Regions from separate parts of the Homo sapiens genome. Here region 1 is linked to region 2. The links come from fine-mapping of genetic effects on gene expression. Tissue or cell type: tibial nerve. Region 2 holds a variant in brackets; the other region holds the start of a gene. All regions are shown on one strand. Distances are from middle to middle.

Evidence for each region. PIP is the estimated chance that this variant, and not a neighbour inherited with it, causes the effect.
Region 1: PRMT1 starts here. The variant in region 2 is fine-mapped to the expression of PRMT1 in tibial nerve (GTEx, PIP above 0.99).

Annotation. Positions count from the first base shown.
Region 1 is chr19:49,675,339-49,680,338 of GRCh38, reverse strand. PRMT1 (protein arginine methyltransferase 1) reads right to left here and starts at 3,068. Exons shown (of 11, transcript NM_001536.6): 1 at 3,023-3,068; 2 at 414-467. The coding sequence starts at 3,058. RefSeq lists a silencer at 2,574-2,853 and enhancers at 2,698-3,429, 3,434-3,583.
Region 2 is chr19:49,058,215-49,066,294 of GRCh38, reverse strand. NTF4 (neurotrophin 4) reads left to right here and starts at 1,477. Exons shown (of 2, transcript NM_006179.5): 1 at 1,477-2,556; 2 at 4,286-5,167. The coding sequence starts at 4,298. The coding sequence ends at 4,930. It also overlaps the pseudogene LOC124904739. The variant C/T (reference allele first, on the strand shown) is at 4,134.

The sequences.
Region 1 (5,000 bases), 620 kb before region 2:
CCCCCCAGGAACCCCAAAACCTAACAACCCCATTTTCCACTTCCAGGACCCCCCCAGAGCACCATCCAGGGGAGCACCCCGATACCTCAGCCACGCCTACCATCTCTCCAGTCTCTCTGACCCCGTCTCTAGCTCAGCCCACAGCTGGGGAGGGGAGGGGAAGGAAAATGGGGGCAGACACAGGGAAGGGCAAAGGGGGGTTGGAGGTGGAGTTAAGGAAGTAGCGGCGATACTGGGGGAGGCCAGCGGGGGCTGTGAACCTGGAGGGGTTGCTACTAAGTGTCTGGGGGCCTGGGGTAAACTGGTTTGAAGCAAGAGGGGTATGGTTAGACCTCAAGAAAGGGCCAGATGTGTGGCAAGATATATTGATGTGGAGGTCAGGGTGGGGAGGGGTCTCACAAAAGGATATTTACTTCTTCAAGAGGCGGCTGGAGGCTCATCCCATTAGCCAAGGTGGCTACAAAATTCTAGGAGAGAGTAACAGGGAAAAAGGATTAGCTACTGGGAGTGGCTGTGGGAGGGCTGGGTGGCGGAACCTGGGCTCTGGCCGGGGGGTGGGTTTCCAGCAATTCTCCTTCTTGGTGGGGAGTGGTGGCGAAGGGGGCAAGTAATGAGGTGGGGTGTTTAAGAAAGGGTGGGAAAAGTGAGGGGAGAAGAAAGGGGGGTCTCCTATCCCAGCTGTGGCTGGAGAGATGGTGGCCCACCCCCACGCTGCCCCTCTCTGGCCAGGCAGCTGACCACACACCTCCCCCATCCAGGCCAGGGGAATTGGCACCCACCACCGCCAGCTGTCGCTCCCTCTCATCACCTAATCTCCTCCAGATTAGGTGACACTTCCTGACACACACACCCCTATCCTAGGGTGCCATGAATAGCAGAAGGGAGCGGGGCTGGCAGGATATGCCCACAGGGCATCTGCCACCTCTGCAAACCAGTCTCATGTCTGAGAGGATTCCAGAATAGAGGTGTGGCACACGGGTACTTCCCCAGAGCTAGTACCCCAGACCCCAGCTCCTGCCTTGGACTCAGGAGCCCCAAACAAAACCAGCTGGAACCAACCCCCTCCCTTATGACCCTCTGCCCACGAAGGTAGGGTCCCAGGGAAGATGGGCAGCTCCTGGACCCTCTAAGAATGAGAGGACTCCAGAAAGTGGCTTGGGGGCACGGTGGCTCACACCTGCAATCCCGGCACTTTGGGAGGCCGAGGCAGGTGGGTCACCTGAGGTCAGGAGTTTGAGACCAGCCTGACCAACATGGTGAAACCCTATCTCTACTAAAAATACAAAAATTAGCTGGGCCTGGTGGCGGGTGCCTGTAATCCCAGCTACTCAGGAGGCTGAAGCAGGAGAATCGCTTGAACCCGGGAGGCGGAGGTTGCAATGAGCCGAGATCAAGCCATTGCACTCCAGCCTGGGTGACAGAGTAAGACTCCGTCTCAAAAAAAAAAAAAAAAAAAGTGGCTTGGGGAGTCAGGCCATCGCCCCCATTCAGACACCCATCCCAGGCCCTGAAGACTTCCAGGTGCGGCCAAGCCTGAGGCCACCTCTGGGAAAGTTATTTCCTCCATCCATAGAGCCCCAGGTGCAGGAGACAGCCAAGAGGGTGGGAAGTCATTACAGTGACCCCTGGGAGCTGCATCCTGACAGCTGAGAGCTGACCTGCCCCTCCAGCCAATGCCATAGGTAAGGGGTGGAAGGACAGAGGCCCCATCAGATTACATCTCTTCCAGATGTGACCACTATCCAAGTCTCCAAGAAGGGCCACGTCACAGGCCATGACCTACTAGGCTCCAAGCACCCTCCCTCCAGCTCTCCCAAGCTAGCGGGGATGCCTATAAGAAGAAAGGTGCTGAGGGGGTTTCCCACTCGGGCCTATTTCTCAATACCACTGAAAACTACCGCCAGACAACCCCAGCCCCAGAGGGCTTGAAACGCAAGACTGAAACCTCCCCCACATGGCTGCACGAGAACCAAACCTCACTCGAAACCATTTCAGGCACCCACTCTCAGGACCCCAGGGCTCAGGACCCTGCACAGGGCTTCAGGAAGAAGGAGGTCATCTCGCACCCTCACAAAGACCCGGGGGAGATAAACGGCTCCAGTAGGGTAAAGCTCTCAGCCTACATATTTCCCACAACTCCTTCCCAGCGGACATACCCTCCTCCCTCCGCCCGCCAGGAAGAAATCCGAGGGGAGGTGGGCTTCAGGACACGCCCCATGAAAAAGATGTCCCTCCCACACACCCAGAAATGGCCACAAGGGGGTGCACGGCGCCTATTAATGGGAAAATCTCTATCTAGATGCCCCACCACCACCCAGAGGGAGGTCACAGGGGCATGCCCCATCCCCCAACTCCTAAAGCCCTGGGCGAGGGGGAGAATTCTGGGAGGGGAAACGGGGTCGGCGGGGGACCCCATTCTTGGTTTTCCTCCAGTCCCTAACCCAGAACGCACAAAACCGGGTCCGATATCCCAACAGATGCCCCCGGAGCTCGGAAGGAGGTTGGTAAAGGGCTGAGAAGCACTGCTCCTCCCAAGAGACTCCCCACATCGTGGAGGGCCCCAGGTCGATCACACCCCACGGCGTGTGCCCAGGTCCCCGGGGAGGAGGGCTGGGGGCGTCAGGAGGGTCGGACCCCCTCCCCGCCCCCCTGGGCGCCCCTCCCCGGCCGGGGGCGGGGCCTTTGTCCCGCACGTGGAGCCCGCCGGGCCACTGGACTCGGCACACCCCCTCCCCACCCACCGCGCAGCGGCCACGTGGGGGCCTGGCCGGAAGCGCCCCCAGCCCTCCTCCACGTGGGAGGGGGGATAAGACCCTCCGCTAGGCCGGATGCCGAAGGCCCTTGGAAGCTAGGGAGCCGTCACCTCAAACGATATCCCCGGATGTGGAACGTGCGGCGCCCCCGTGTGCGGCGGGGGACCTCCAACCCCATATCGCCAACTTAGAGCCCTTTCCCCACCACAGAGGCGTGAAACACCGACCCAAAGCCGCCTCCCGCCCACGGCGGCGCTCCAAGCGCTCACCTCCATGATGCAGTTCGCGGCCTCGGCTGCCGCCATCTTCACCCGCACCTACTCCTCCTCCGGCCGCCAAGACCCCCCCTTTCTCCTCACTCCCCCGGGACCGCCTTATACCAGAGGGTCCACGGCCCGCCTACCGCGACCCCGCTGGAAGATTTCATTGGCAATGGAGGCGGCCCGTCTGAGAATACCGTCTAGTAATTGGCTAGAGAATACGTCCATCATAGGTCAGGGGTTTGCCAACTCTGGCGTCCAGAATCCCGCCCCCTCAAGTCGACCCGGGATGGGGAAAACTGCCCGTCTATTGCAAGAAGCGCGACTGGTGATTGGGCAAAATCCACCAGGAATGCCCTCCCCTTTACACCCAGCACCGCCTCAAAGCTTCCCGGGGAGCCCCGCGCTAAAGGGGCGTCTTGAAACACCTGTCCATCACCAAAACGACCCGCCTCCTAATCGCTGCCATTGGTTTATCCGGAAGCGACGTCACGCAGCCTTTGGCCCACCCTCGCCAAGCGGCCGGCCTCAAGGAGAACACGGCAATTGGCCCACGGGTAGGGAAGAAGGCGGGGCTTCAGGCACCAACGATTGGCTCAAAGGAATTATCACTCCTCGTCCACTCGGTGGATCCTCCCAACCCGGGGGGAGTCTGGAGGAAAAAGGGAGCTTGTGCTCATTACCTGGGGGAAAAACGGAATCGGTGAGAGGCCCAGAGAGAGGAAGGGCATAGCTGGGGTCCCGAAGCAAGTGAGGAATAGGAGTCCGTCGTCAACACATTAAATCCCTAGCCCTTGACATAATCATTCCAAGTTTTTTAAAACCATCAACCCCTCTCAAGCCACTTGGTTTTTGCCAAGTCCCTCCCCCTGCCAGGAACGCCCACCTCTCTTTGTCTGGTCAGCTTCTAAACGTGAATCAGAGCACAGCTTAGGCACCACTTCCTCCGGGAAGCTTTCCTTGATTTGCAGAAAAAGTTCCTAGTTGAATGAAGCTGAATGCAAAGGGCCGAATGCGTGGGTCCTGCCCCTCCTCTCCCCGATCCCTCTACTTCCCTCTGCTCACACTTCTCTCCAATCCCGGAATGAGCTCGCTCTTTGGTTTCTGGGCCTCCGCGCAGGCTATACTCTCTGGCGTGCCGCTGGCAAACGCCTGAGACTTAAAATTTACAATAGGGTTCGGGCGCGATGGCTCACGGGTGTAATTCCAGCACTTTAGGAGGCGGAGGCAGGCGGATCACTTGACATCAGGAGTTCGAGACCAGTCTGGGCAACATGGTGAAACCCCCATTTCTATTAAAAATACAAAAATTACGCCAGGCGGCCGGGCGCGGTGGCTCACGCCTGTAATCCCAGCATTTTGGGAGACCGAGGCGGGCGGATCACAAGGTCAGGAGGTCGAGACCATCCTGGCTAACATGGTGAAACCCCCGTCTCTACTAAAAATACAAAAAATTAGCCGGGCGTGGAGGCTTAGGCAGGAGGATGGCGTGAACCCGGGAGGCGGAGCTTGCAGTGAGCTGAGATCGCGCCACTGCACTCCAGCCTGGGTGACAGAGCGAGACTCTTGTCTCAAAAAAAAAAAAAAAAAAAATTTGGCCGGGCGCGGTGACTCACGCCTGTAATCCCAGCATTTTGGAAGGCTGAGGTGGGCGGATCACAAGCTCAGGAGTTCGAGACCAGCCTAGCCAATATGGTGAAACCCCCGTCTCTACTAAAAAAACAAAAATTAGCCGGGTGTGGTGGTGGGCGCCTGTAGTCCCAGCTGCTCCAGAGGCTGAGGCAGGAGAATCACGTGAACCCGGGAGGCAGAGGTTGCAGTGAGCTGAGATGGTGCCACTGCACTCCAGCCTAGGCGACACAGCGAGACTCCATCTCAAAAAATAATAAAATAAATAAAAATAAAAATAAAAAAATTAGCCAGGACTGGTGGCACACGCCTGTAATCCCAGCTACTTGGGAGGCTGAGGCAGGAGAATCGCTTGAGC
Region 2 (8,080 bases):
GGTGACCTGAATGCACACCCAAAGCCTGGGAAGTGGCCCTTCCCCCCACCCCCAATAAATAACTGGAGCGGCCTTGTGTGTTGCCTTGGCTGGGATGGTGAGGAGCAGGAAACACCCTAACCGGGGACACCCTCCTGCCACCTTGCCATGCTATATTTAGGCTGAGGGGGTGTGGGATGACCCTCGAGGCAGGTGTCAGTTTTCCTTCTGAAAATAGCGCAGGCGGAGGGGAGCGGAGTCTCAGGGTAGAGGTGTGGTGGGGTGAGGAGCCCCGCTGCCCTCATGACTGTCCTGAGACACTCCGGCTCCGGTCCCATCCCTGTCTTTCTCAGGGTCTCTCAGGGGCTCTGTCCCCTTCTCGGGGGGGTGGGGGGGTCTGCCCTCACGCTCTCTGGGCCTCTGTCTTCTCTCTGGGCTCCTGCCCTCCCCCACTCTCTCTAGTCTCGGTCCCCCTCTTTCTTTTGGTCTCTCCCCACTTTTCCATGTCTTCTCCCTATCTCTCCCTTCATGTCACCGCGCACCATTTCTCAAGGTAGCTGATTGTTCTTAAGACACATCTGTCTATCTCTGGTCCTATGATACCTTGCACGTCTCTTATCTGAGCTCAGGACAAGACCTTCTCCCCGGTCCCCAGCCAGGAAATTCCAGGGGAGAGGAGTATGCGGGAGCCCCCACATCCACTGTCTCCCCGGGCCTGGGGCCTTATCACTGCCCAAGCCCAGCTGGTTAATGTCTGGCGTGGAGCTCCTGGGAAGTGGGGAGGAGAGCAGAGGGTGGGAATCTGCCCCGGGATTGACACGCAATTGGCAAAAGACGGCAAAGGAATCTCAGGCCCAGACTCCTGGGGCTAATGGAGGAGGAGGCTGGGGGCTGGACTCCTGAGTCTGAGACGGGGCGGGGTTGGGAGGTGGTGGGGGGAACTGTGGGCTTAGTACTCAGGCGCCTGGGGCTGGGGGGAGAGGTGGCTGGGGTCGCAAGTCCTGGGTCTGAGGGAGGAGGGGCCGGATGCCTGGACTCCTGGGTCTGAAGGGAGGAGGGGCTGGGGGCCTGGACTGCTAGGTCCAAAGGAGGAGGCAGCTGGAAACTGGGACTCCTGTGACCAAGGCGGCCGCGTTGAACGAGCCAGGCCTGGCTTCCAAGGTCCCGGCACGCGAGTGCAAGGCAGGATCCCCCGGCCCCTCCTCTGCCGCCCGGCGCCGCCCCGCCCCCGCCCCCGACCCGGGCCCTGCGGAGCGTGAGCAGCTAGCACCCGGCGGGCCAGCGAGCGTCCCTGCAGCCAGCGAGCAGGAGGAGGAGCTGCTGCCGGGCGGAGGGCAGCCGCGGGAGCCGAAGAGGGCGCCCCAGGTAAGATCTCCACTCCTCCTCCCTCGGGATTCCGGCGTCCTGGTCGCCCTGCCCTCGGGTGGGGAGGGACGGGGGCGGGGCCGACCGGGGCGGGGCTTGGCGGAGGAAACTGAGGCAAGAGGGAAGTGTCCCAGATATGCAGCCGGTTTCCCCTGAGGGGTCTCGGAGTCCGGAACCCCCAACCCAAATCTGGAGGATGAGGAACCCGGAGTCTGCATTTCTTAGTATCCGAGAAGGAGGGGCCTGAATTCCAGAACTCCTGGGTCTGAGAGAGGAGGGCACTGGGGGCCTGGATTCCTGGGTCTGAGGGAGAAGGGCGCTGGGGGCATGGACTCCTGGGTCTGAAGGAGGAGGGCGCTGGGGACCTGGACTCCAGGGTCTGAGGGAGAAGGGTGCTGGGGGCCTGGGCCTGGACTCCTCCTGGGTCTGAGGGAGAAGGGTGCTGGGGGCCTGGACTTCTGGGTCTGAGAGAGGAGGGCGCTGGGGGCCTGGACTACTCCTGGGTCTGAGGGAGGAGGGCGCTGGGGATCTGAACTCCTGGGTCTGAAGGTGGAGGCCCTGGGGTCTGCACTACTCGGTCTGAGGGAGAAGGCGGTCCTGGTTGGGTCAGCCTGGGCTCCTTTCACTCTCCACCCTTCCCCTTTCCTGTACCGAGGAGCCAGGGCAGGCAGCCACTCCAGGTATGTGCAGAAGTCTTGGGCGGGCCCTGGCCTGTCCTGTGAGGAGGGAACATTCCAGGAAGCAGCTTGGGGAACCAGGGCTTCTTGAGTGTGGGCCCTCAGGGACCCGGGTGTCCAGGCCAGTTCCGCCCCATCTGGGAGATGAATGGGCCGAGGGGGATGTAATCTCTTCCAGCCTCCTTCATCCACTGCCTCTCCCTTCCCCTATTCTCCCTTCCCCTCCCTCCATCTGCTTCCCATCCCAGCCAGGAGCCATCACCTGGGTAGAAAAGGGGCCTCTGGAAAGGGGGCGGGGCCTTGACTCTTGGGTACCCTGCACTTGAAGAGGAACTCTGGGAAGGGGTTGTTCAGGGATTTGGCCCCTTCCCCACCTGCCTCTATAACCTGTCTATTCTTTTCTTCCCCTAGGTGGTTGCCCCCTCCCTCTCCTGAGATGTCAGGAAGGAGGGGGCCACCTGTGTCCTCCACAGGGGCCCCCCGAAGCCTGGGGACTCCCAGCCCCAGAGCTCCGAGGCGGAGGAGGTGCTGACAGGTCTGGTAACTACTGACTGTTTCCCAGTCTTCTCCACGCCACCCTTTCCCAGAACCACAGGCTTCCAGAATGTTGTAGGGAAACTGCAAAATCCGCGCCTCCACCAGCCTCTCCCAGCGCCAGGTCAATTTCACACACAGGGAAACTGAAGCCTGCCTCAGAGGGGCAGCGTTTTACCTCCTTAGTGGCAGTTTTGAGGTGAACTGGGGTCTCCCTAGGATTCCAGGTTGTGACCTTTCTCTAAATTGTGGAATGTGGCCAGGCGTGGTGGCTTGAGTCTGTAGTCCCAGCTACTCAGGAGGCTGAGGCAGGAGAATGCCATGAACTTGGGAGGCGGAGCTTGCAGTGAGCCAAGATCGTGCCACTGCACTCCAGCCTGGGCGACAGAGGGAGATTCCATCTCAAAAAAAAAAAAAAAAAAATTTTGTTTGGGACCAGGCATGGTGGCTTATGCTTGTAATCCCAGCACTTTGGGAGGCCAGGACACGACTATTGCTTGAGGTTGGGAGTTCAAGACCAGTCTGGCCAACATGGTGAAACCCCATCTCTATTAAAAATACAAAAATTAGCTGGGCACAGTGGCAGGTGCTTGTAATCCCACCTACTCAGAAGGCTGAGGCAGGAGAATCACTTGAACCCAGGAGGCAGACATTGCAGTGAGCCAGGATTGTGCCACTGTACTCCAGCCTGGCCAACAGAGTGAGATTCTGTCTCAAAAAAAAAAAATTGTTTGGAACATCCTCCAAGATGCAAGACTGTCGGTTCCTCAGAGTTGCACAGGAAGGACGGCAGAGTGCAGTTGCCCAGAGGTGAAGTCCCATCTCTGCCATTTGCTGGCTGTGTGACCGGGCACAAATCATTAACTTCTCTGAGCCTGTATTTCAACATCTGTTACTGTTAAGTAATAGTAGTTGAATTATTTTTATTTTTATTTTATTATTATTATTGTTTTTTAAGACGGAGTTTCGCTCTTGTTGCCCAGGCTGGAGTGCAATGGTTCAATCTCAGCCCACCACAACCTCCACCTCCTGGGTTCAAGTGATTGCCCTGCCTCAGCCTCCCAAGTAACTGGGATTACAGACATGCGCCACCACACCCGGGTAATTCTGTATTTTTAGTAGAGAAGGGGTTTCACCATGTTGACCAAGCTGGTCTGGAACTCCTCACCTCAGGTGAGCCGCCCATCTCGGCCTCCCAAAGTGCCGGGATTACAGGTGTGAGCCACCATGCCTGGCCTTATTTTTACTTTTGAGACAGAGTCTCACTCTTGTCGCCCAGGTGGCAGGGGAGTGGTGCACTCTCTGCTCACTGCAACCTCGGCCTCCTGGGTTCAAGTGATTCTCCTGCCTCAGCCTACTGAGTAGCTGGGATTACAGGCGTGCAGCACTATGCCCGGTTAATTTTGGTATTTTTGGTAGAGATGAGGTTTCACCATGTTGGCCAGGCTGCTCTGGAACTCCTGACCTCAAGTCATCCACCTGCCTCAGCCTCCCAGAGTGCTGGGATTAGAGGTGTGGGGCACAGTGCCTGGCCTGTAGTAGTTGAATATTTATTATTAATCTACAAGTTGCGCATTA[C/T]GCAAGCCCTAGATATAGGGTCCCCCAAACTTCTAGAACAAGGGCTTCCCCACAATCCTGGCAGGCAAGCCTCCCCTGGGGTTCCCAACTTCTTTCCCCACTGAAGTTTTTACCCCCTTCTCTAATCCCAGCCTCCCTCTTTCTGTCTCCAGGTGCTCCGAGAGATGCTCCCTCTCCCCTCATGCTCCCTCCCCATCCTCCTCCTTTTCCTCCTCCCCAGTGTGCCAATTGAGTCCCAACCCCCACCCTCAACATTGCCCCCTTTTCTGGCCCCTGAGTGGGACCTTCTCTCCCCCCGAGTAGTCCTGTCTAGGGGTGCCCCTGCTGGGCCCCCTCTGCTCTTCCTGCTGGAGGCTGGGGCCTTTCGGGAGTCAGCAGGTGCCCCGGCCAACCGCAGCCGGCGTGGGGTGAGCGAAACTGCACCAGCGAGTCGTCGGGGTGAGCTGGCTGTGTGCGATGCAGTCAGTGGCTGGGTGACAGACCGCCGGACCGCTGTGGACTTGCGTGGGCGCGAGGTGGAGGTGTTGGGCGAGGTGCCTGCAGCTGGCGGCAGTCCCCTCCGCCAGTACTTCTTTGAAACCCGCTGCAAGGCTGATAACGCTGAGGAAGGTGGCCCGGGGGCAGGTGGAGGGGGCTGCCGGGGAGTGGACAGGAGGCACTGGGTATCTGAGTGCAAGGCCAAGCAGTCCTATGTGCGGGCATTGACCGCTGATGCCCAGGGCCGTGTGGGCTGGCGATGGATTCGAATTGACACTGCCTGCGTCTGCACACTCCTCAGCCGGACTGGCCGGGCCTGAGACCCATGCCCAGGAAAATAACAGAGCTGGATGCTGAGAGACCTCAGGGATGGCCCAGCTGATCTAAGGACCCCAGTTTGGGAACTCATCAAATAATCACAAAATCACAATTCTCTGATTTTGAGCTCAATCTCTGCAGGATGGGTGAAACCACATGGGGTTTTGGAGGTTGAATAGGAGTTCTCCTGGAGCAACTTGAGGGTAATAATGATGATGATATAATAATAATAGCCACTATTTACTGAGTGTTTACTGTTTCTTATCCCTAATACATAACTCCTCAGATCAACTCTCATGGATTTGATCATTGGTGGCCCTTGGTGTTAAGTTGCTGACTACTCAGTCTCAGAGGACACCACCTTGCTGGGGAGTGGGAGGGGACATTTCACGATGTGGGTGGAGGAGGAGAGAAACTAGAACAGGCAAGCAGATGGCCAGGGGACCTTGAGAACGTGGCCCACAGAAGGCCTTTAAGTATCTGGGAGATGGGGTTCAAATGGGAAATCTTACTTGGTAAGAGGGGGCAAAGGTTGACTTAGAATATTCTGTTTTGAGGTAATAAGCTACCGATCACAGAGGAGTACAAGCAAGGTTGAATGAGAAGTGATCAGGATGCTGGAGAGTTCAGCCCTCGGCAGGGAGCTGAAGTCAGGTTTCTAGCCCTCTTCCCTGTCCCAACCTTTACTCTACATTGGGAAAGAAACAGACCTTAAAATTTTCCAGCTTGATGGCCAGGTGCGATGGCTCATTCCTGTAATCCCAGCACTTTGGGAGGCCGAGGTGGGTGAATCACCTGAGGTCAGGAGTTCGAGACTAGCCTGGCCAACATGGTGAAAACCCGACTCTACTAAAATTATATAAAGAAATTAGCTGGTCGTGGTGGCGGATGCCTGTAATCCAAGCTACTCTGAAGGGTGAGGTAGGAGAATTGCTTGAACTCAGGAGGCAGAGGTTGCAGTAAGCCAAGACTGTACCATTGCACTCCAGCCTTGGCAAAAAGAGCGAAACTCCATTTCAAAAAAAAGAAAAAAATTTTGTCCAGCTTGAGTGGGGCATGAGTTTCTGACTAACTCATCGGCCCCCTGGCTAGGATCAGGGGGTCACTGTCCATTGAGAGCTGTTGAGTAGGGCCAGCAAAATCCAACAGAAAGGCCCCAGAAGCCTGAATGGGGGAGGAGGGGTAAGTGGGATCCTGGGCATGGCTGCAGAAAGTAGCCTCAGTTTTCCTTGTCTGCAGAATGGGCTGGTAGGATGAGATAATGGGGGTTGAGCAGTCAGAGGCCTTGACCAAAAGCTTTTTTTTTTTTTTTTTTTTTTTTTTTTTTTTTGAGATGGAGTCTCGCTCTGTCACCCAGGCTGGAGTGCAGTGGTGTGATCTGAGCTCACTGCAGCCTTCACCTCCCGGGTTGAAGTGATTCTTCTGCCTTAGTTGGGATTACAGGTGTGCGCCACCACGCCCGGCTACTTTTTGTATTTTTTGGTAGAGACAGGGTTTCGCCATGTTGGCCGGGCTGGTCTCAAACTCCTGACCTCAAGTGATCCGCATGCCTCGGCCTCCCAAAGTGCTGGGATTACGGGCATGAGCCACTGCGCCCGGTGATCAAAAGCTGTTTATAGTGAAGAAGTGACAAGGGAAGCCAGGGACAGACCACAGGCCTTCACAATAGCCCTTCACATGTTACCCATCGCCCCACCAACTCTCTCTCTCTCTCTCAGGTCCAGCTTTGAGCAAAGGACATAGGCAACTTCTCCCCGCATCTATACAGACCAGGCCCCTGGGCAGGGTGGGGCGTGGCTGCCTCAGTTTCTACGTCTCCTTGTTTTCCATCTGTGACTTTGGTCGTTTTTGCCACCTTCATCTCTGTCTCTAACTTCCAGTGTCTGTCGCCTCTGGGTAGTACTAATAGCTCCCTTTCCATCGTGGTCTCTTTCTTCCTCCCTGTCTCTCCCCTTTCTTGTTGTATTTATTCCTCACTCATCAAAGCCCATCTTTTTCGCTATGGTCCGGTGCACTTCTCTCTAGATCCCTTTCTCTTTCCCCACCCAGCCTACCCAGGTGGAAGTTTTCAACCAAATCAAAGGCAGGCAGGACAGCTGACACCAGCGCTGACTCCTTCAGCACGTGCGGGAAGGGTTGGGGAGCCCCGGGGACATCTGGAAATCGTTACCCCGAGGTGGGCAGGCCTGGCAGAGGGAGGAAGCAGCCAGGAGGTTCTGGACCCTGGAGCAAAGGGGGGTGTTTCTCATGGATGTCCTGAGGTGCTGGGGGCAGTGCAGGGGTCTCTGTCTGTATCTCTGACACCCCCAGGTCTCTGTCCTTCTTTCTGTGTCTCTGTCTCCCCCACCCCCTGGGTCTCTGAAATCCTGAACTTCTCCATCCCCTTCTGTCCGCCTCTTTCTGACTCTCCATCCCCCACTCCGTGTTTCTCTGTGCCCCTCTTGGAGTCCCTGTCTCTCTGTCTCTGGGTCTCTTAATCACTCCATCCATCCATGTGCCTGCAGGCCTTTCATTGGCTGGATTGGGGTGGGCGGGTTCTGTCACCTGGGGCAACAGCAACAAACCAGCTCCTGCTTGGCTACAGGGAGGGGGTGGAACCATGGCCAGTGGCACCCTGGCTGTGCGCTGTGGCCCCCCGTGGTCTTTCATCTCTGCAACCGAGATGCCTGAATCCTGGCCCAACTGGCATCTCACCAGCAGCTACGTTACCCATGGCATTATCCCACCCGTACCCTTCCCCCCGCCCACGGTGCAGGTGGGCAGACCCTAGGCTGAAGCCCTGCGGGGCCTGGGGACCCAGAAAGATGGGGGCTGAGAAAAGGGGATTGGGAGCTTGGACTCCTCTCTGAAGGAGGAGGGTCCTGGAGTCCTGGGTCTGAGAGAGGAGGCGCCAGGGAATTTGGATGCCAGGGACTGCAGAGGAAAGGGCTGGGGGCCGACTGGAAGAGGTCAGAGTTTGGGGTGGGGGGTGATAGGGACTCCTGAGTCTTTCTAGCTGATGTGCGGCGCCTTCTCTCCAGTCCACGGTCGCGGACCCTCTACCTCCGACTGCAAAGCAGGATTCTCGCATCTGGGCTTTCGACGAGGTCCTCAGCAGATGGGAGACAACCTCTGGCTCGGCCTACGTGCCCAAGACCCATGGCGGGCCCTGC